Linked DNA regions of Homo sapiens. The protein of the gene in region 1 interacts with the protein of each later gene in a pairwise test. Each region holds a gene or a part of one and is shown in the gene's direction. Other genes may lie near its edges.

Region 1 (3,970 bases):
CGGAGCCATCCTTTCGGTGGTAGTTGGGGAAGGCTATGCAGATTTGCTCTGTTGTGACGCGTTGGTGACGGTGCCCAGCCTGCGGTTCCCCACAGCATCGCAGGCGCTCGGAAATCCTCTCCCGTGCCTTTAGAGGAAGGAGAGGATTGCTGAGGAATGCAGGGACGCCTGTTTCTGTCCTCACACCACAGAAAGAAACCTGAGGGAAAACTGAGACGTGAGGTTCCTGATTTAAGAAGCCTGGGTTTCTTCATGGTGGGGGGCCATTTGGAATGACAGCCTCACTTCCTTCTGATGGCTACATCTGTATCTTTTCCTCCTGTGTTTAATGTTTCACTAGGGAGAGGAAATAAAGCAGAAGGAACGTGTGAAGCTCTGTGTCTCAGACGGGGCCCTCCCGTCGAGAAGCTGGTAGTCAGTGAGTGAGAACAAGAGAACAAGAACACCCTGAACAGTCCTGGTTGGGATGGTGTCCACATTCATGTTCTGCGGTTCTTGAACACACGGATGCCTCTGGGCCACCTGTCCTTTTCCGAGGGTGTGGGTGGGAGTGGATCCTCCGGGCGCAGGTGCCAGGCAGGTGCAGGCGGGCGGTCGGCCACTGCTGCTGCTCGTCCCTGCCAGTGTCTGGGCCTGAAGGGGCTCCCTCCAAGCGGTGCCTTCCTGCGGCTTAGAAGGGAAAGCGCCAGAGAGGGCAGGCTACAGTGCTTCACACCCTTCGCCACGGCTGTGAAACTGGAGATGGGTGGGTTTTGTATGTTAATTTTTTTTTTTGAGACGGAGTCTTGCTCTGTCACCCAGGCTGGAGAGCAGTGGCGTGATCTCGGCTCACTGCAAGCTCCGCCTCCCGGGTTCACGCCATTCTCCTGCCTCAGCCCCCCCGAGTAGCTGGGACTACAGGCGCCCGCCACCACGCCTGGCTAATTTTTTATATTTTTAGTAGAGACAGGGTTTCACCATGTTAACCAGGATGGTCTCGATCTCCTGACCTCACGATTTGCCCGCCTCGGCTTCCCAGAGTGCTGGGATTACAGGCGTGAGCCACCGCGCCTGGCCACCCAGCTAAGTTTGTATTTTTGTTGGAGACGGGGTTTCACCATATTGGCCAGACTGGTCTCAAACTCCTGGGGTCAAATGATCCGCCTGCGTCGGCTTCCCAGAGTGCTGGGATTACAGGTGTCAGCCACTGCGCTCAGCTGGGAGATGAATTTTCATTTAATGACTTAACTTTTTGTTAGCACAGGTTTTGTGTGTGTGTGTGTGTGTGTGTTTTGTTTTTTGTTTTGTGTTTTTGAAACGGAGTTTTGCTCTGTCACCCAGGCTGGAATGCAATGGCACCATCTTGGCTCACTGCAACCTCTGCTTCCTGGGTTCAAGTGATTCTCTTGCCTTAGCCTCCCGAGCAGCTGGGATTATAGGCGTCCACCACCACGCCCAGCTAATTTTTGTATTTTTAGTAGAAATGGGGTTTCACCATGTGTGGCCAGGCTGGTCTCGAACTCCTGACCTGAAGTGATCCACCCGCCTCGACCTCCCAAAGTGCTGGGATGACAGGCATGAGCCACCGCACCCGGCCAACACAGATGTTTATTGATCGTGGAGGATACATTGTGGAAAATGTTTTTCTCTCTTTTACCATTTTTGGGAAGAGGGATAGGTAAGTGCAGGGAGTTTGTGCTGAAACAGCGCCTGGCAATTTTTCAGAAATGAATTTGATATTGCGCTCCACCTTTGAGCTGTTCACACCTGTGGCTACCCCTGGAAAGCGCTGGGGTTGTTGATGCTTTTGGCTGCCCGGCTTCCTGAGGTCTCGCTGCTTTTTGGGGAAAGATGACTGGCTTCCCTGTGGGACGCTTTTGTCTGACACGTGATGATGTGGTCCTGCCTGCCACTGTGCACCATCCCAGGTATTGAATTTTGACCTTTTCTTTTCAAGTTTCTGTGCTTAGTGTTTTTAATGTTTACTTTTGCCACTTACAATAATATCACCAAAATAATATGCATAGAGTTTTGGAAGAAACATAGAAAACATGAGCAGAATGAGACAATTCCTTGGGCTGTAGTTTGGACCCAACTGAATCCTGAGTGCTCTGTGGCTGACGCTGTCTACCCGTGGGAGAGACACACTCAGGAGTGGCCGTTTGGCCAGAAAAGAAGGTCATGGCCCCTGGCCTGGCCCCCGCCCTGCAGGGACACAGAAGCCACACCATTTGCACCATCCACGCCTTGCTCCAGAAGGCCTGGCCGCCTTCTCCCTGGGGGTGATTCAAGGATTTGGTCTCGGACCAGACCCCCCTCCACAGCTGCCCGGCCCCAGACCCATCTCTTGGATTGAGGGTGTGTGGGCTGGAACCAGTGGGTCACTGTGGCAGCTTCATCTGAGCCGAAGGTGTGGGTCCTCTGTGGCTGTGCGATTGACCTCGATGGGAAGGAGCGTTCTACCCATTTTCCTTGTTTTCAGTGCTGCGGTATCAGTCAGTGATCTGAGGAAATCCTGTAGGGGAAGGCAGGCTGCAGTGAAAACAGGAGCTGGTGAAACCGAGCCCTCTGCATCTGCGAATGTGCCCTAGGTGCTGCTGCTGGGGACATGGATGCCAAGCGGAGGCCTGCGTGGCCTCCTGAGCAGCAGCTGACCGCCCGTCTCATGCTGGACGGGACCCCTGGGCGGGTGGACATGAGACCACTGTTGGCCAGGGACGCCGTGCGGAGGCCTACGTGGCTGCCTGAGCAGCAGCTGACCGCCCGTCTCACTGTTGGCCAGGGCTTTGTGGCGTGGGTGTTTTCCAGTCTGCCTGGAGCAGCGAGAAGCAGCTGTGCAGACTGGTGGCGGTGGGAGGGTTTGCTGGGACTGATGGGGACACCGGCCAGCTTGTCTGGTGTCCAGCAGCCCTGCCGGACTTGGCCTCCTGTCCTGTCGTTGGGAGCCCTGGCTGGGGCTGCTTTGAGCAATGACGCTGGCCCAGAGCAGCTTCCCACATGACCCCAGAGCCGAGGGTCTGCCCTGTCCTAGGTTAGGTCTTCATGGTTTAGAGTAAAACCGTGAGGGATGTTAATTATGGGCATTGAAGACTTAAGGTTTTCTTAAATTTTTAGTGAGCAGTGATTGGCCTTCAATACTTGTGCTGAGAGGAATTTTAAGCCAGGGGAAGTGTAAGAAAATGTTCCCATTCAGGAGAGATTGTGTTGGAGTTTCTTTCTTCCTCTGTATGTATTTTGTGGTGTCCACCTTTAACCACGTTTCATCCAAAACGATGATGCAGCTTTAACATGAATGTTACATTTTTATTTTCAAGGAATTATTATCTATGTTCCCTTTGTAAAGGAAAGATAATGTTGTAAATCTTTTTATTAGATAATGTAAAGATGTATATCAGTATTTTTGGATCATGTTATAGATTATGGATATATTGTTTAATAAATAAAGTATTTTTTGGAACAAACAATTGAAAGTGCATCTGTATTAGCCCGTTTTCACGCTGCTGATAAAGACATACCCGAGATTGGGTAATTTGTAAAGAAAAAGAGGTTTTTTTTAAAAAAAATTTTCTTTTCTCTTTTTTTGAGACGGAGTCTTGCTCTGTCACCCAGGCTGGAGTGCAATGGCACTGCATGATTTCGGCTCACTGTAACATCTGCCTCCCGGGTTCAGGTGATTCTCCTGCCTCAGCCTCCTGAGTAGCTGGGACTACAGGCACGTGCCACCACGCCCTGCTAATTTTTGTATTTTTAGTAGAGATGGGGTTTTGCCATGTTGGCCAAGCTGGTCTTGAACTCCTGACCTCAGGTGATCTGCCTGCCTCAGCCTCCCAAAGTGTTGGGATTACAGGCGTGAGCCACCGCACCTGACAGAAAAAGAGGTCTGGTGGACCCTCAGTTCCACATGGCTGGGGAGGCCTCACAATCATGGCGGGAGACGAAAGGCTTATCTTACATGGCAGCAGACAATAGAAAATGAGAGCCAAGTGAAAGG
Region 2 (7,952 bases), on another chromosome or scaffold:
CATTATATGCAGTCAGTCATTGACCAAAACATCATTATGCAGTGCGTGACTATATTTATTTGACATTTAGTCTGGGTCATTGACTCAAATGCCTATAAACACACATACACACATACATACCCCTCACACTCTAGCTTCTGCAGGTAGGGGAACCCTCAGCCTTTGTTCTCAGAAAAAAAGCCCCAGAGGTTACCATTGGGCATACTGATTTGCACACAGACCCATCTGGAAGAAAGTTTGAGATTGGAAGTGAGTCACTGATAGGGTGAGTAGATGAGCAGACTTTCCAAAGAGATGTCTTAAGGTTCTTACCTCACTTCTCTGCAGTATGAGATGGGTGGCCTCTCAACTCAGCCACTACTAAAAGGTGAGCCTTTGTGCCATCTCGGAGATGTCTCATAAGTTGCCAACCCATTTGTAGAAAATTAAGGAAAAGTGCATTTTTTTTACTCCCAAATAAACTCATAAATATTTTGCTTTTTATATTATTCAAGAAACTTTGCAACATTTCCCCTCATCATGTATAATCTAGGGTCTCCAAAAGGCTGTAGACTTTTCCCCCCAAGATCCCTGCATTTTTTTGTGACAGGCTGGGCCTTAGATGTTCCAGGCTCTTCACCGGACTGTCTTCTTGGGAGGTCAGGCCAACAGGGGTCTTTAACTAAGATGAAGGATGGGTTGATGGAACTGGTCACTCACAGGTCAGGTCTGAAGCCCAATTCACACTCAACTAATCACAAGTGGCTGACGTTGAGGAGCAGAGAGGGGTGCAGCTGGCACTTCCTGATCTGAGGATGGCTCTTAGAACCAGGGAACTATCCAGTCTCTTAGGATGATTCAGTGGACCTGAGAGCTTTGATAATACGTTTCAATTTGGCCTATCACTGACATTTGGGTGATTCTGCAAGTTCTGAGCCAGAAGAAAAATAAAGAATGGTTGTCAAAGTTGGAATTTAAAATGGTGGGCCATTTCAACTTGGCATACTTGTCCATAATGCATATAGTAAAAAAAAAAAAAAAAGAAAAAAAGAAAAAAGTTATTTTAATACCTGGATAGTGTATTCTTTCCAGAGCAGCTTGCCATTCTCCAAACCAGTGACTTGCGTTAGCCTCCAATGCTTGCAAAACATTGATTTAAAATGACGTTTTTCATGTTAACACAGTATCAGTGTGGAAGGAGTAAACTTATAGGCCGTTTTTATAATTTGAGATTATCTTATTTAAGTAAGAAACTTATAATTATCTCATTTATCCTAGGAGAAAAAATAGCTTCCCCCCGCCCCACCCTTGTCTGGTTATTATGATAAATTATTTTGCTTTAAATAAGAAAAATGAACGTTTATAGAAAATATCTAAAAGGAGATAGGGCCAGGCACGGTGGCTCACGCCTGTAATCCCAGCACTTTGGGAGGCCAAGGCGGGCGAATCACGAGGTCAGGAGGTCGAGACCATCCTGGCTAACATGGTGGAACCCCGTCTCTACTAAAAATACAAAAAATTAGCTGGGCATGGTGGCGGGTGCCTGTAGTCCCAGCTACTCAGGAGGCTGAGGCAGGAGAATGGGGTGTACCCAGGAGGCGGAGCTTCCTGGGTAGTGAGCCAATATCGTGCCACTGCACTCCAGCCTGGGCAGCAGAGTGAGACTCCGTCTCAAAAAAAAAAAAAAAAAAAAAAAGATATAAAAGGAGATGAATCTTTGGGAGGCCAAGGCAGGTGGATCACTTGAGGTCTGGAGTTCCAGACCAGCCTGACCAATATGACGAAACCCCGTCTCTACTAAAAATACAAAAATTAGCCGGGTGTGGTGGCATGCGCCTGTAATCCCAGCTGCAGTGAGCCAAGATCGCGCCATTGCACTCCAGCTTCCAGCCTGGGAAATTAGAGCAAAACTCGGTCACAAAAAAAAAGGAGATAAATAATGCTCCAGGAAAAAGCAAATAGAATTACTAAAGGGAAGAAGAGGCAGGAAAAGAAAGAAATTTGGAAACAGACTAAAAGATTCACTTGTCCTCAAGTGAAAGATCTTTCATCAAGAAAAATGAAGAATTATCAGAATTTAGTTATATAAAACACACAGGGTTAAGGGAAATGCTCATGTTTACCAATCCTAGAACATTAGAAATACTTTAAAAGAAATACTGTTGTTCATATTTATGCATATTTGAGGGTCTCAGAACCCCGAAATGACCTTGGCAGTAAATACAATTTAAACAGGAAACCAAAGATGGCAAATACATAATATGTATTTCACTATTTCCATTTATATACCCATAGCAGACATTATCAAGTGATCAGGCGGCTATTTCCAACTAGATGGATGCACTCTGAGATCCTTTTCAGTAGATGGCCCTTAAGATGAAATCCTCCTGCTGTCTGTGCTACTCAAAGCGTGATCTTTAGAACACCAGCATGTGCATGACATGAGAACTTACTCGGAAAGCAGAATCTCAGCCCCATTCTAGACCAACTGAATCTGAATCTGTATTTTAGCAAGATCCCCAGTGATTCTTAGGCATATTAAGGTTTAAGAAGTTCTGGAGATGCACTGAATGCATGATATATTCATTAGGGCAGAATATCTCAAGTTTTAGTATGCATCATAATCACTAGGTTGAACACTGTTGAAACACAGATTGCTGGGCCCCATCCCCAGGGCTTTTGATTCAATAGGTCTGGGTGGAGCTTTCAAACAAGTTTCCAGGTAATGCTTCTGCAGCTCCAGGGACCACACTTTGAGAACCACTGCATTAGGGCCATGGGAATACTTTGGAATATCTCCCTGATCTTTAGAAGCTGAAGATTGTGATATCTTTCCACAAATCTTGGTACACTGGTCAGAACTAGAATTCAGGGCAGGCAAAAGAGTCCCAAGGTTTATAGCATAATATTTCGTATGTCCTTATGTTCCTAAATCTAAAAGACAATCTCTCCTTCTTCTAGCATCATTCAATCATTCATTCAGTATAAATGTTGGGTAGCTATTCTGTCCACAGCTTTATGCTCCATACTGAGAAGATCTAAAGAAAGTTAAAACACAGCTCCTAATTCCAAGATGTTTATTCTCTAAGATGAAAATGAATGCATGAAACAATAAATAACAGGTTAAATAATGGGAGACAATAGTACGGGAGGTGGCATCAGATGGCAAAGGGCAAAGTGTTAAGTAAGTAGCATGAATGATGTGTGACTTGATTTCAGAGAGAGGGAGGATAACTGAAACAGACATAGACAGGGCCGTGCATTTCAGCCTAACTAGAGTAGAAAGTTGCTACCTAGAATGGCTAAGAAGGTGCCTTCTCATTTCTTAATGCTTCAGAGGTTAAGACTTTGATGTTTCCTCTGGTCTGAGATCTTTGTCACTTTGGGCCACTATAACAAAAATACCATAAACAGGATGGCTTAAACAACAAACATTTATTTCTTACAGTACTAGAGGCTGGAAGTCTGAGACTAGGATGCCAACACGGTATCAGATTCTTGGTAAGGGCCCTCTTCCTGGTCCACAGAAGACTGCCTTCTGTGTCCTCACAAGGCAGTAAGAAAGCATCTCTCTCCTGTCTCTTCTAATAAGAGTGCTAATCCTATCATGAGGGCTCCACTGTCTTGACCTTATTACCTCCTAAAGTTCCCCACCTCCTAATACCATCACACTGGGGATTACGGGTTTAACATGAATTCCAGGGGGACAGAGTTAATAGCATCTGAGTTATTCTAAATCAATGCTATCAGCACTGAAGATCAGGCTATAGGGTGGGCACAAAGTGTCCTGGAAACAAAGAAGAAAGACAAATAGTTTATAAACAGAGATGACTTTGGGGGAAAGCAGCAGTAATTTAACAACAGGGAAAATAAAGCCCAGCTTTTATTGGTCTCTTACATTGCCAGGTACTTGTGCTAAATGACTGCCATGCACCAACCATCTCATTTAATCCAAACAACAGCTCATTAGGTAAATGTCGTCAAGCCTCCACCTTACTACATGTGAAAACAGAAGCTTTATAAGCATGCATGTAAGCTTAAATAACTTGCCCACTTCTAATCCAAGCAGTTCTACAGGGTGGGAGGCTCCTCATTCATAAATCGCGAAGGCTGGCCTGCCTGATCATCTCTCAGTTTCCTTCTTATTCTCATCCACTTTCAGTCAGCGAGGAAACCACAGAGCAACCCAAACAGCGAATTCGAGTCGAGGAACCTGTTGGGGCCAGTGCGTCCCAGGCGCGGACAGGGAGGGGCTCCATGAAACGCAGCAAGGTTTGGCCAGAGCCTGCCGGGGTCATGGAGCCTCTCCCGGCTTCTTCAGGCCACTCTAATTACAGAGTCTGTGGTAGGTTGCGTGGAGGAGCTGTCTCGGGGCGGGAAGCTTCCCTGCGTATTGTATTTGCCTATAAATACTTCAAATAGTTAAGTGAAATGTGCAGCCTTTGAAAACTGGAGAGGAAGCCGTTGGGAGGCCCCCCGCCCAGCCGGCCTGGAAGAGCAGGCAGAGAAATGGCTGGCGCGCTCTTAAAGCGGGAGACGAGCTTCGGCCCTGCCCAAGCCAGATGGGGGCAGCGAGGCTGCGGGCGTGACTCCGGAAGACTCAAACCGTTAAGGTGACCGGAGCAATTTGAAAAAGGAAACAAACTTCCCTCGAGCCGTGCCCGCGTGGCTCTGGGGCGGACGGTTGCGTTCGAAAGGGCATTTTTCAAAAGAAGGGTTTCAGGAACGCAGGGGTGTGGGCCCCCCGGGAGGCGCGCGGCCGGGGCAGTGCCGCAAAGCGGCCACCAGCCCGCTTTGTACTCGCGGCCAAGCGCGGCCCCAGAGTTTCGGCGGCGGCCAGAGTTTAGGCCACACCCTCTTTGCAGTGAGACCCGCGGCCGCTGATTGGCGCACCGTGGACCAATGGGCGCGCCGGGGCGGCCCCGGCTGTCAGCGCGCGCCGCAGCAGCGCCGGCAGCAGCCTGTCCTCCCCTGCGCTGAGCCCCGCAGCCAGCGCAGCCTTCCCGGGAAGCGCGGCGGCCGCTCCCGAGCGCAGCCCTGCCCGGCCCGCCAGCCGCGCGTCCCGGCGCCCGCGCCCCACGGCCACAGCCTTGCCTCTATCTAGCTCACGGAGCATGTGCAGACCCGCAGGCGCTAAGGTGCTCTCAGTCCGGGGGCCTTCTGGGCAGCGGTGACTGTCACCCCAAGAGAGACCTTTCGGGGGCTCTTGCCGCACCTCTGCTGCGTCGCGGGTGACACTGCGGTGCTCGCGAGCAGGGTGGCAGCTGCCTCTCGGTGGAGACGTCTTGGGACCCTTGCGCCCTTCTTCTCTCCTTCCTTCGCTGCTGTCTCCTTTCCTTCCTTGGCTGCTCGCTCTTTCTCTCGCCGGCTCAGACCCGTAGCCTCCGGAACGGGACTCGTGGGTCGCCGCCGCCTCTGTCTCTTCCAAAGGGGCCTCCTCACTTCGGAGATGCAGTGACAAGTTAATATGGGCGTCCAAGCCTCTGTTTCCCAGGAGGAAATTTGCAAGAGGCGGCAGCCCCTGAGCGCCCAGAGCTCTTGAAAGGCCACCCAGGAGAGGTGTGAGACCCGGCGGCAGCATCCGTCCAGGTGGGACCCGCTGAGCGCCGTGGCCAGTCCCCCATTCCCATCCCGGCACCCCAAAGGCGCGCTCGCCCGATTGCTTCGAGTTCCCCGACCTGGGGATTTTTTTTTTAGCCGCTGGTGGTGGGCGCCTCGTGGGCTAAGGCCCGGCGCCTGCTCTGCTACCCGCGCTGCCTTTAGCGGTCGCCCCCGCCGCCGCTGCCAGGGACGTGCTGGGAAAGCCCAAGCCCCGGGAGAAGATGCCGGCCATCCTGGTCGCCTCCAAAATGAAGTCGGGACTGCCCAAACCCGTGCACAGCGCCGCGCCCATCCTGCACGTGCCCCCGGCCCGGGCGGGCCCCCAGCCCTGCTACCTGAAGTTGGGAAGCAAGGTGGAGGTGAGCAAGACCACCTATCCTAGCCAGATCCCCCTGAAATCGCAGGTGCTGCAGGGGCTGCAGGAGCCAGCGGGGGAGGGGCTCCCGCTGCGGAAGAGCGGCTCGGTGGAAAACGGGTTCGATACCCAGGTGAGAGATGCCGTTTGCCGGGGTACTGTTCTGGAAGGATGGATGAATAGTTCTTTCGGGATGGTGTGGGAGAAAGGGCTGGATGGGAGAAGGGTCTACCATGTGGCCAGGGAAGGGAACCATTCCCCTTAGGCCGGCAGGTTGGGGGATGCGCGAGGAGAGTGGGCCGGCCGGTGGGTGTGGCCCGGGTGCCGGAGGTTTGCCTTAAGAGCTCTTCGAGACCTGGGATGGCGGGCACGTCTGCAGCATCTTCCTGGGGAGGAGGAAAGGTCGGGATGTTCTCAAAAAACGTGTGCATCGCTGGAAATGTGAGGTCCTGCATGTTGAGGTCTTGGCCCCAAGAAGCCAGTATCCGCAGCAGCAGCTGTGTGTCTGTCTGGCGGTTCCGCAGAGATTCTGTTCCGGACAAGGAATGATCTAAGGCCCCATTGGGTTCGACGCCCCCTAGCCTGGCTGTAAGATCCAGGAAGAAAAGGGGATCGCGGGTGGCAGTGAACCTGCTCTTCCCTTGGCTTGAAGATGACCTGTCCCTGCCCCATCCTGCGGGGTGACGGGATTCCGGGCAAGGTGCTGGGACTGCGGTACTAGTGCACCAGCTGAGGCCGGCAGCTGGAGACTCCTAGCGCCTTGGCTGGCTGTTGCGGTGGGGGTGGGGGTGGAGGTGGCTGCCTCAGAATGGCGGCCGAAGCTAAGCCCCTCCTTCCTGGGTGGTAGATCCTGGTGTTGGTAGCCCGAGTGACGGGGCGTGGGGATGGGAGATGGCTTGAAGAGAATTGGTGACTCCTACCTTTCCAGACAGAGCCTGCATCCAGACAAGCCCTGGCCGTGCAATCTCTTTTACAGAAATTAGCAAGGGCCAATCAGGTTCTCTTGGTCCTCCCCGCTCCATTTCCCCCTTCTTCTGGTAGGAGGGGGCTATATTTTCTTGGCAGTCAGTCAGCAGGGACTTTTGGGGACAGGCCGACCTGACGGATGTGACTGTCCGGTTAGGAGAGGCGGGAAGCCAGAGGGGAGGTGGTTTGGGGCTGGTGTCAGGAAAATGGCAACAGACCAGCTGACCTTTTTGGCACATACTTCCCTGCTGACACCATCTCCACCTTCTCCTGGAGCTTTCTCTGATCAGAGGCTAGAGCTCAACACGTTCCTAGGCTTTCTGATGCGGGAACTGGAGCTGAAGCTAATTGTAAGCAGACTTTTGGAACTCTGGGCTGGAGAAGGCCCTCAAAGCAGATTAAGCTCCCACACCAGGCTGATAAGCATGCCCCTTGCTGCTGCACTTGCTAAACATTTTTGGAAGCTGACAGGTTTGAGTGATGGTGTGTGGGAGGAAGGCAAGATTTCCTCCAGTGCTCCGGGGGCCTGCCTCTGTGAGGGTTTTGTGCTCTGCTCTTCTTCTGTTGTTACGTACAGGATTTGTCCAGTGGGCTCTGCCATGGGGGTGAGCACCAGGGTACACTTCTGCATGGGGTTTCCCTTCATCCATGGACTTGGGGTTTATGAGGTGTAGTGGGCAGTCGGTGGGAGGTCAGTACAGTGACTCGGGACTGGAGGTGACACATACCCTCGAGCCTGATGAGGAGCACCCGAGGAATGAGAGGGAAAGTCCATGCTGGGATTGTTCATATCCAGGCAGCTGTTCTGCCTTTGCCCGTTTGACCCTTCATTTAACAAACATTGTCAGAGGACTGGCAGTGCATAGGCTCTGGAAAGGTGATTCATCACCCTGTCCGTGAAAAAAAATGTTCTTCAGCTTCTCTCTGAGGGGCTGGAACAGTCCACTTCCCTCAAGACTTTGCTTCCCTCTTTTGCCCTTGGTCCATAATCCCCCCATTTCACCTCTCTCGCCCTCAATGGGCCCTTGTGTACTGATGGTGAACATAGTTT
Region 3 (6,975 bases), on another chromosome or scaffold:
GATGGCTCGCAGGAGGATTGGGAGCTGGGATGCTGCTTGGCTAACGTCCTCTCCTGCAGGGAGGGGGTGAGGTCTACAAGGGGTACCCAGGGCATTCTCTGGAATGCTACCTCCCTTCCCGTGAATACTACCTCCCTCCCACTTAATGTACTAGGTGGCATTATTAATAGTATTATTAATCCATACATTCATTCAACATTTTTTTTGTTGATTGTCTACCGTTTACAGGTTGGTTTGGCTACTGGAGATACAGAAATGACTGTGATGTCACCCTAGTCCACAAGGAATCCATGGTCGAGTGGGGACACTGGGGTGGCCAGCAGGCAGTGACAGAGCAATCTCATACAAGTTTATATTACAACCAGGTGCAGTGGCTTGTCCTTGTAATCCCAGCTACTTGGGAGACTGATGCACCTCCTCGGGAGGTGGGAGAATCACTTGAGACCAGGAGTTAGAGACCAGCCTGGGAAACATAGTGAGACGGTCTCAAAAAAAAAAAAAAAAAATTAGTCGGGCTTGGTGACCCGCACCAGCAGTCTTAGCTACTCAAGAGGCTGAGGAGGGAGGATCGTTGGAGCTCAGGAGCTTGAGGTTGCAGTGAGCTGTAATCATGCCACTGCACTCTAGCCTGGGTATATTACATATAATATGTATGTATAAAAATGTGTATATTTATTTATGTTTATTTATTTATGTTTATTTTTTGAGATAGAGTCTCACTATTTCACCCAGGCTTGAGTACAGTGGCACAATCACGGCTCACTGCAGTCTTGAACTCCCAGGCTCAAGTGACCCTCCCACCTCAGCCTCCTAAGTAGCTGGAACTACAGGCATGTGCCACCATGCCCGGCTAACTTTTAAAAATGTTTTGTAGAGATGGTGTCCCCTATGTCGCCCAGGCTGGTTTGAAACTCCAGGTTTCAAGCAATCCTCCCACCTCAGCCTCCAAAAGTGCTGAGATTACAGGCATGAGCCACCATGCCCGGTGATTTTTTTTTTTTTTTTTTTTTTTGAGATGGAGTCTCACTGTGTCGTCCAGACTGGAGTGCAGTGGCGGGATCCCTGCTCACTGCAACCTCTGCCTTCCGGGTTAGCGCAGTTCTCCTGTCTCAGCCTCCCGAGTAGCTGGGATTACAGGTGCCCGCCACCATGCCTGGCTAATTTTTTTGTATTTTTAGTAGAGATGGGGTTTCGCCCATTGGCCAGGCTGGTCTGGAACTCCTGACCTCAAGTCATCTGCCTGCCTCGGCCTCCCAAAGTGCTGGGATTACAGACGTGAGACACCGTGCCCAGCCCCCCGCCTTTTTTTTTTTTAAGAGATTGGGCCTCCCCATGTTGCTCAGGCTGCTCTCAAACTCCTGAGCTCAGGTAATCCTCCCACCTCAGTCTCCCAAAGTGCTGGGATTACAGGCATGAGCCACCACGTCTGCCACCCCTGACCCCCAAATTTTGTTTACAGTTAATATTGCAAAGGCCTCCTCTCTCTACATGCTTTCTTGTCTTTCCAATCCATGCTCCACATTTTTGGAGATGGAGTCTCGCTCTATCCTCCAGGGTGGAGTGCAGTGTTGCAATCTTGGCTCATGGCAACCTCTGCCTTCCAGGTTCATGCAATTCTCATGCCTCAGCCTCCTGAGTAGCTGGGATTACAGGCATGCACCACCACGCCCGGATAATTTTTGTATTTTTAGTAGAGATGAGGTTTCCACATGTCTGCCAGGCTGGTCTGGAACTCCTGACCTCAGGTGATCTGCCTGCCTCAACCTCTCAAAGTGCTGGTATTACAGGCTTGAGCCACTTTGCGCTTGGCCACTATTTTTTTTTTTTTTTTTTGAGATGGCGTCGCGCTCTGTCGCCCAGGCTGGAGTGCAGTGGTGCAATCTTGGCTCACTGTAACCTCTACCTCCTGGGTTTAAGTGATTCTCCTGCCTCAGCCTCCTGAGTAGCTGGGACTATAGTCGCCGGCTGCCACGCCCAGCTAATTTTTGTACTTTTAGTAGAGACGGGGTTTCACCACGTTGGCCAGGCTGGTCTCAAATTCTTGACCTCAAGTGATCAACCTGCCTCGGCCTCCCAAAGTGCTGGGATTACAGGTGTGAGCCACAGCGCCCAGCCTAGAGTGAAATACTGAAAACCCTCTCATGGTTTTCCAGGCTTCTGAGGGATGAAGTCCAACACCTTAGGCTGGCCTATCAGACGCTGCATAGTCTGGTCCTGCTGACTTTGGCAGGATTTCTCTCATCGCTGGCCCTGTAACACTTCAAGGGACTGCAGTGATGATGCTTCATAGAATATGCAGTATTCTCTTGTACCTGCATGTGGTACCTGTGTACCTACTGCAGTCTGTTTAGAATTCCCTTTGCTGCTTGTTTGGCGAACTTCCACTCACCTTTCATGGCTCAGTTCCAATACCATCACCTCTGGGAACCATCTCCTGCCTGCCCCAGGAGGACCGGGACCTCCTTTTCCTGTCCTCTTTTCCTTGAACCTGTATATACTTTTTTTTTTTTTTTTTTTTTTTTGAGACAAGAGTCTCACTCTGTCACCCAGGCTGAAGTGTAGTGGTGATTTTGGCTCACTGCAACCTCCGCCTTCCAGGTTCAAGGAATTCTCCCTGCCTCCTCCTCCCTAGTAGCTGGGATTACAGGCACACACCACCATGCCCGGTTAATTTTTGTATTTTTAGTAGAGACGGGGTTTCGCTATGTTGGGCAGTCTGGTCTTGAACTTCTGACCTTAGGTGATCCGCCTGCCTCAGCCTCCCAAAGTGCTGGGACTACAGGCGTGAGCCACCGCAGTCTTAAATGGTTAATGAGGATTAGGAAATCTATCAATTATTCAACAGAGAGACAATGAATGGATCAAGGGATTGGGGAGCTCCCTGACATTACAGAACAAATTCAGTATGCAGTATACTGTGAAAGCGAGGCGGAAAAGCAGGTTTTGTTTGCGAGTCTGACTTTAGGATTGCAGGTGAAACACTTGTGTGACCCTGGAGCTGTGTGGCTAAGGTGCTGCGGGGTCACTGGAGAAAGGTCAAGGGACTGTGGCCCAGTTGGCCCGGAGGTGGTTCAGGTCTCCCAGATTCCAGGGCGGCATTATGAGCCACGTGACAGACCTCCCCTGACTGGCTGACAGTGAAGCATAATTGAGAAGATGGCGGACCAGCAAGGACCTCATCAGAATAGGTCTGTACACAGAGCGGCATAGAGAGTGCAGGAGGGTAGTAGACCGGGCGCGGAGGCTCAAGCCTGTAATACAAGCACTTTGGAAGGCCGAGGCGGGTGGATCATGAGGTCAGGAGATGGAGACTATCCTGCCCAACACGGTGAAACCCCGTCTCTACTAAAAATACAAAAAAAAATTAGCCGGGCGTTGTGGCGGGCGCCAGTAGTCCCAGTTACTCGGGAGGCTCAGGCAGGAGAATGGCGTGAACCCGGGAGGCGGAGGTTGCGGTGAGCCGAGATCGCGCCACTGCACTCCAGCCTGGGCAACAGAGCAAGAATCTGTCTCAAAAAAAAAAAAAAAAAAAAAAAAAAAAAAAAAAAAAAAAGTGCAGGAAGGTAGTGAACAGAACAGCAAGGGGAATGCCGACCCTTTCTCCTGTTGGGGCCAAGACAGAGGCGATGTGGGCAGGGGAGAGGCCGGGGAATGCGCAGAAGCCGACTCCATCTCCGCATTAATAGTGGACTAGGGGCAGGGCTGGATTTTCGGAGGCAGTGTGCAGCTCCCAATAACTAGTTCCATGGGTCCTCTGTGAGCCTAGTTTCCTGGTGGGTACCGAGGGGAGGGCGTCGGAACCGTACGCTCCTTTGAGTGAGGGGAATCCGGGAGGATCCAAGGCAGGGGAAACAGGGCCGAGCGGGAAAGGCCTTGAATGGGGGGCGAGACCCGGCCAGGCCCGCTGGACGCGTAGCACGTCTCCTTGGTGACGGGACGCGTGGCCCGGAAGTGGGCGGCCCTTCTGGCGGGGCGGGGCATCTCTGTGACGCTAGGGGCTGGGCCTCGATGGCGAAACCCAAGCGGCTCCCGGGGGGGTTTGAACTGGCCAATGGGCGAGCTGCCGACCGGGTGTCGGAAAAGGAGGCGGAAGCGGGGAGGAGCCGCTGCCAGAGCCAGACTGCATCCGCCGCGGCGTCTCCATGGCACGACCCTGGCCTCCGACTTCAACGACTTCATAAGGCGGCGTTTCTGGGCGCAGCCGTGTCGCTCCTGGTGAGAGGCCGCCGGCAGGCGGGATCCAGCGCCCTCCGGGGCACCGCGGGCGAGACCGTCGCCTTCGCACCCCCGGCGCGGTCGACCCCGCGGGGCCGTCGGGTCCTGGGTTCCCCGCCGCGTTGCGCTCGTCCCCCTCCTGTCAGAACCTGGGCCCCCGCCCCGCCCACCGGCGCGGGGCCTCTCCTCCTCCCGCTAACGGGCGGTCGGCCGCCTCCTTCCTCTCTTGGCTACCACGGGGCTCTGCCCCTCCTCTGCCGCCCGCGGGCAGGGCTTCACCTTTCTCTCTATGGGCAGAAACCGGTACCCTCCTGCCTGCTGGTGGGTGGCCGTCCCTTCTCTCCGCCGACAGAGGCTCTCCCTCGCTCTGCTGCCCGTCGGCGGCATCGCCCCGACCGCCTCGTCCTCTCCTCGGGCCTCCACATGGCAGTCACTTGTACGCCCTCCGTAGGCAGCGCTGTCCCCCGGGCACCGTCTCCGGCTTGCCAGGGCCCTCGCCCGGCGGGGGGGGGTCCCGCCCGCCCCCTCCCAGCCCGGCGTCTATCCTGCTCAGAACTCTGTTCGGTTTTCCCTCGCGGCGGGGCGCCCGGGGCCCGTGCAACCTCCGCGCCTCCCTCCTTTAAACACTATTGGTCCTCTCGGGCATCTGTTCTTCCGTAACGCCCCTTCTCCTAGGAGACAGTTGTCCGGCCCCGCCCCAGCATCCCCGCGGCTCCCTGCGCGGTTCTGGCCCTCTGGGGCCCACTTGGGGCCGAGCGGTTCTCACCCGCCCTCTCCGCACGTCCGCCGGCGCCTCAGGTTTCCCCCGGTAGCCACCGGCAGTCCTCCGCGTGGGACCCGGGCGCGGTGGTCCTTTCCCTCGCGGTTCTGCCCCGTCCCCTCCCCTTCCTCCCCTCTGCCCCCAGGTCGCTCAGCCTCTACTATTTCCCCCTACTTTGGCAGGACAGTTGCTGTGCGACTTGGACAGTAGAGGAGCGCCTCCCAAGTTTTCATCCAACTGCCAACCCCAAAGCTTCCACCCTTCTCCCCTCAGAGAGGACGTTTGATGCCGGGCCCCTTGAGAGGCTCATTGACAAGCCTGCCCCTCTGGGTCCCCCTGAGCAGAGCCTGCTGACCCAATTGCCCACCTTTGCGGCTTTGATGCCTAGCCATGTCTGCCTCATCCTCAGGCGGCTCCCCCAGGTATTGCCGATGTGGGAGGCGCCTGCGCCGGAGGGCAGGGAAAGGTGGCCAGGGGTCCCCAGGGCAGGCTCGCCTGAGGCTTCCAGCTTCCTCATTGTGTTTGCTGAAAGTCTGGACCAAAACGTTTAAAAATCGTTTTTAAAGGGAAGGGGGAACGAAATGTATACACAATCCTAGCTCTACCTCCCTCGCTCCTTCCCTCCCCAGATGTCACAGCTTCCTGGAAGCAAACAGGGTCACTCTTGTTGTCTTTATATAATAGAGTACTAGGTTCAGAGCCTTTTTGAAGGGAGTCGAGGTGTAAATAAATAACACGTAGGAGGTGGATGTGGCAGTTAGCAAGATAATGGAATCCAGGTGGTTTGACAAGAAACCCACTGAGAGATTTCCCAAAGCTATTGGCTTTACGTGAACAATGTTCTAAATGATTAGGGAAAAAAGCCTGTCTTCTCAGTTTTGGTATTCCTTGGCTAAAGGATCAGTAGAGGTCTATATATATATATATATTTTTTTTTTTTCCCCTCTTTTTAAAATCACGATGTAATACATATACAGCAAAACGCATACCAAAGTGCTCAAGTATTTTTTTCCTTGCATTTTGATGTTGCATTATTTTCCCCAAGTGTTTGTAAAGAGGGCAAGATGATAATTTTGGACCTCCCTGTCTCTGCCCCACCCTCCCTGCCACCCCCTGGTCGCTCCAGCCTCTCTGATCTCCCCCCACTTTGGGGGGCCAGGTGCGGTGGCTCATGCCTGTGCAATCCTAGCACTTTGAGAGGCCAAGGTGGGTGGATCACCTGAGGTCAGGAGTTTGAGACCAGCCTGACCAACATGGTGAAACCCCGTCTTTACTAGAAACATAAAAAATTAGCTGGGCATGGTGGCACACGCCTGTAATCCCAGCTACTCAGGAGCCTGGGGCAGGAGAATTGGAGAATTGCTTGAAGCCAGGAGGCAGAGGTTGCAGTAAGCCAAGATTGGGCCACTGCACTCCAGCCTGGGCGACAGAGCGAGACTCTATCTCAAAAAAAAAAAAAAAAAAAAGGCCAGGAGATGGATCAGATGGTTATTCCAAGGCCCTTCCCATCCTGGACTTTTTGGATATACTGCTGAAAGATTTTGGAGCAAATAGACTTTTGCTCTCTCTCTTTTTTTTTTTTTTATTTGGCTGTCTTTGCAGATCTGGTGATGGAGCTGTACAGTATATGTGTAAGCAAGGTGAATTAGACATGGCATTAAAAAAAAATCCCCTGCTGCTTGAGAGCTTAAAGGATAGCAAGTGGAATATTTTGGGAACTAGATACTTTTTTATTCTCTTAGGGGAATATTTGAGCCTTAATTTGATGAGTGTGCGTCACAGTGACCTCTCGTGCCTGAGCCTAATGCTCTTTGAAAAAATTTTTTTTTCTTTTTTGTTGTTGTTTTGAAACGGGGTCTCCCTCTGCCACCTAGGCTGGAGTGCAGTGGCGTGGTTACGGCTCACTGCAGCCTCCACCTCCCAGGCTTAATTGATTCTCCCACCTCAGCCTCCCGAGTAGCTGGGACTACAGACACACGCCACCACGCCAAGCTAATTTT

What was found.
Region 2: the proteins of ING5 (region 1) and NAV2 interact in binary tests that used the Homo sapiens proteins (3 or more experiments, as listed by UniProt).
Region 3: the proteins of ING5 (region 1) and ODF2 interact in binary tests that used the Homo sapiens proteins (3 or more experiments, as listed by UniProt).

Annotation. Positions count from the first base shown.
Region 1 is NC_000002.12:241,726,039-241,730,008, forward strand, and holds the end of ING5 (inhibitor of growth protein 5), read left to right. Parts: 3' UTR 1-3,440; downstream 3,441-3,970. UniProt on the Homo sapiens protein: Component of the HBO1 complex, which specifically mediates acetylation of histone H3 at 'Lys-14' (H3K14ac) and, to a lower extent, acetylation of histone H4. Component of the MOZ/MORF complex which has a histone H3 acetyltransferase activity.
Region 2 is NC_000011.10:19,707,895-19,715,846, forward strand, and holds the start of NAV2 (neuron navigator 2), read left to right. Parts: upstream 1-4,942; 5' UTR 4,943-5,801; coding exon 5,802-6,068; exon of another isoform or gene 6,069-6,778; intron 6,779-7,952. UniProt on the Homo sapiens protein: Possesses 3' to 5' helicase activity and exonuclease activity. Involved in neuronal development, specifically in the development of different sensory organs.
Region 3 is NC_000009.12:128,452,041-128,459,015, forward strand, and holds the start of ODF2 (outer dense fiber protein 2), read left to right. Parts: upstream 1-3,965; 5' UTR 3,966-4,051; coding exon 4,052-4,215; intron 4,216-4,391; exon of another isoform or gene 4,392-4,504; coding exon of another isoform or gene 4,505-4,536; intron 4,537-4,895; exon of another isoform or gene 4,896-5,023; intron 5,024-5,157; exon of another isoform or gene 5,158-5,365; coding exon of another isoform or gene 5,366-5,397; intron 5,398-6,975. UniProt on the Homo sapiens protein: Seems to be a major component of sperm tail outer dense fibers (ODF).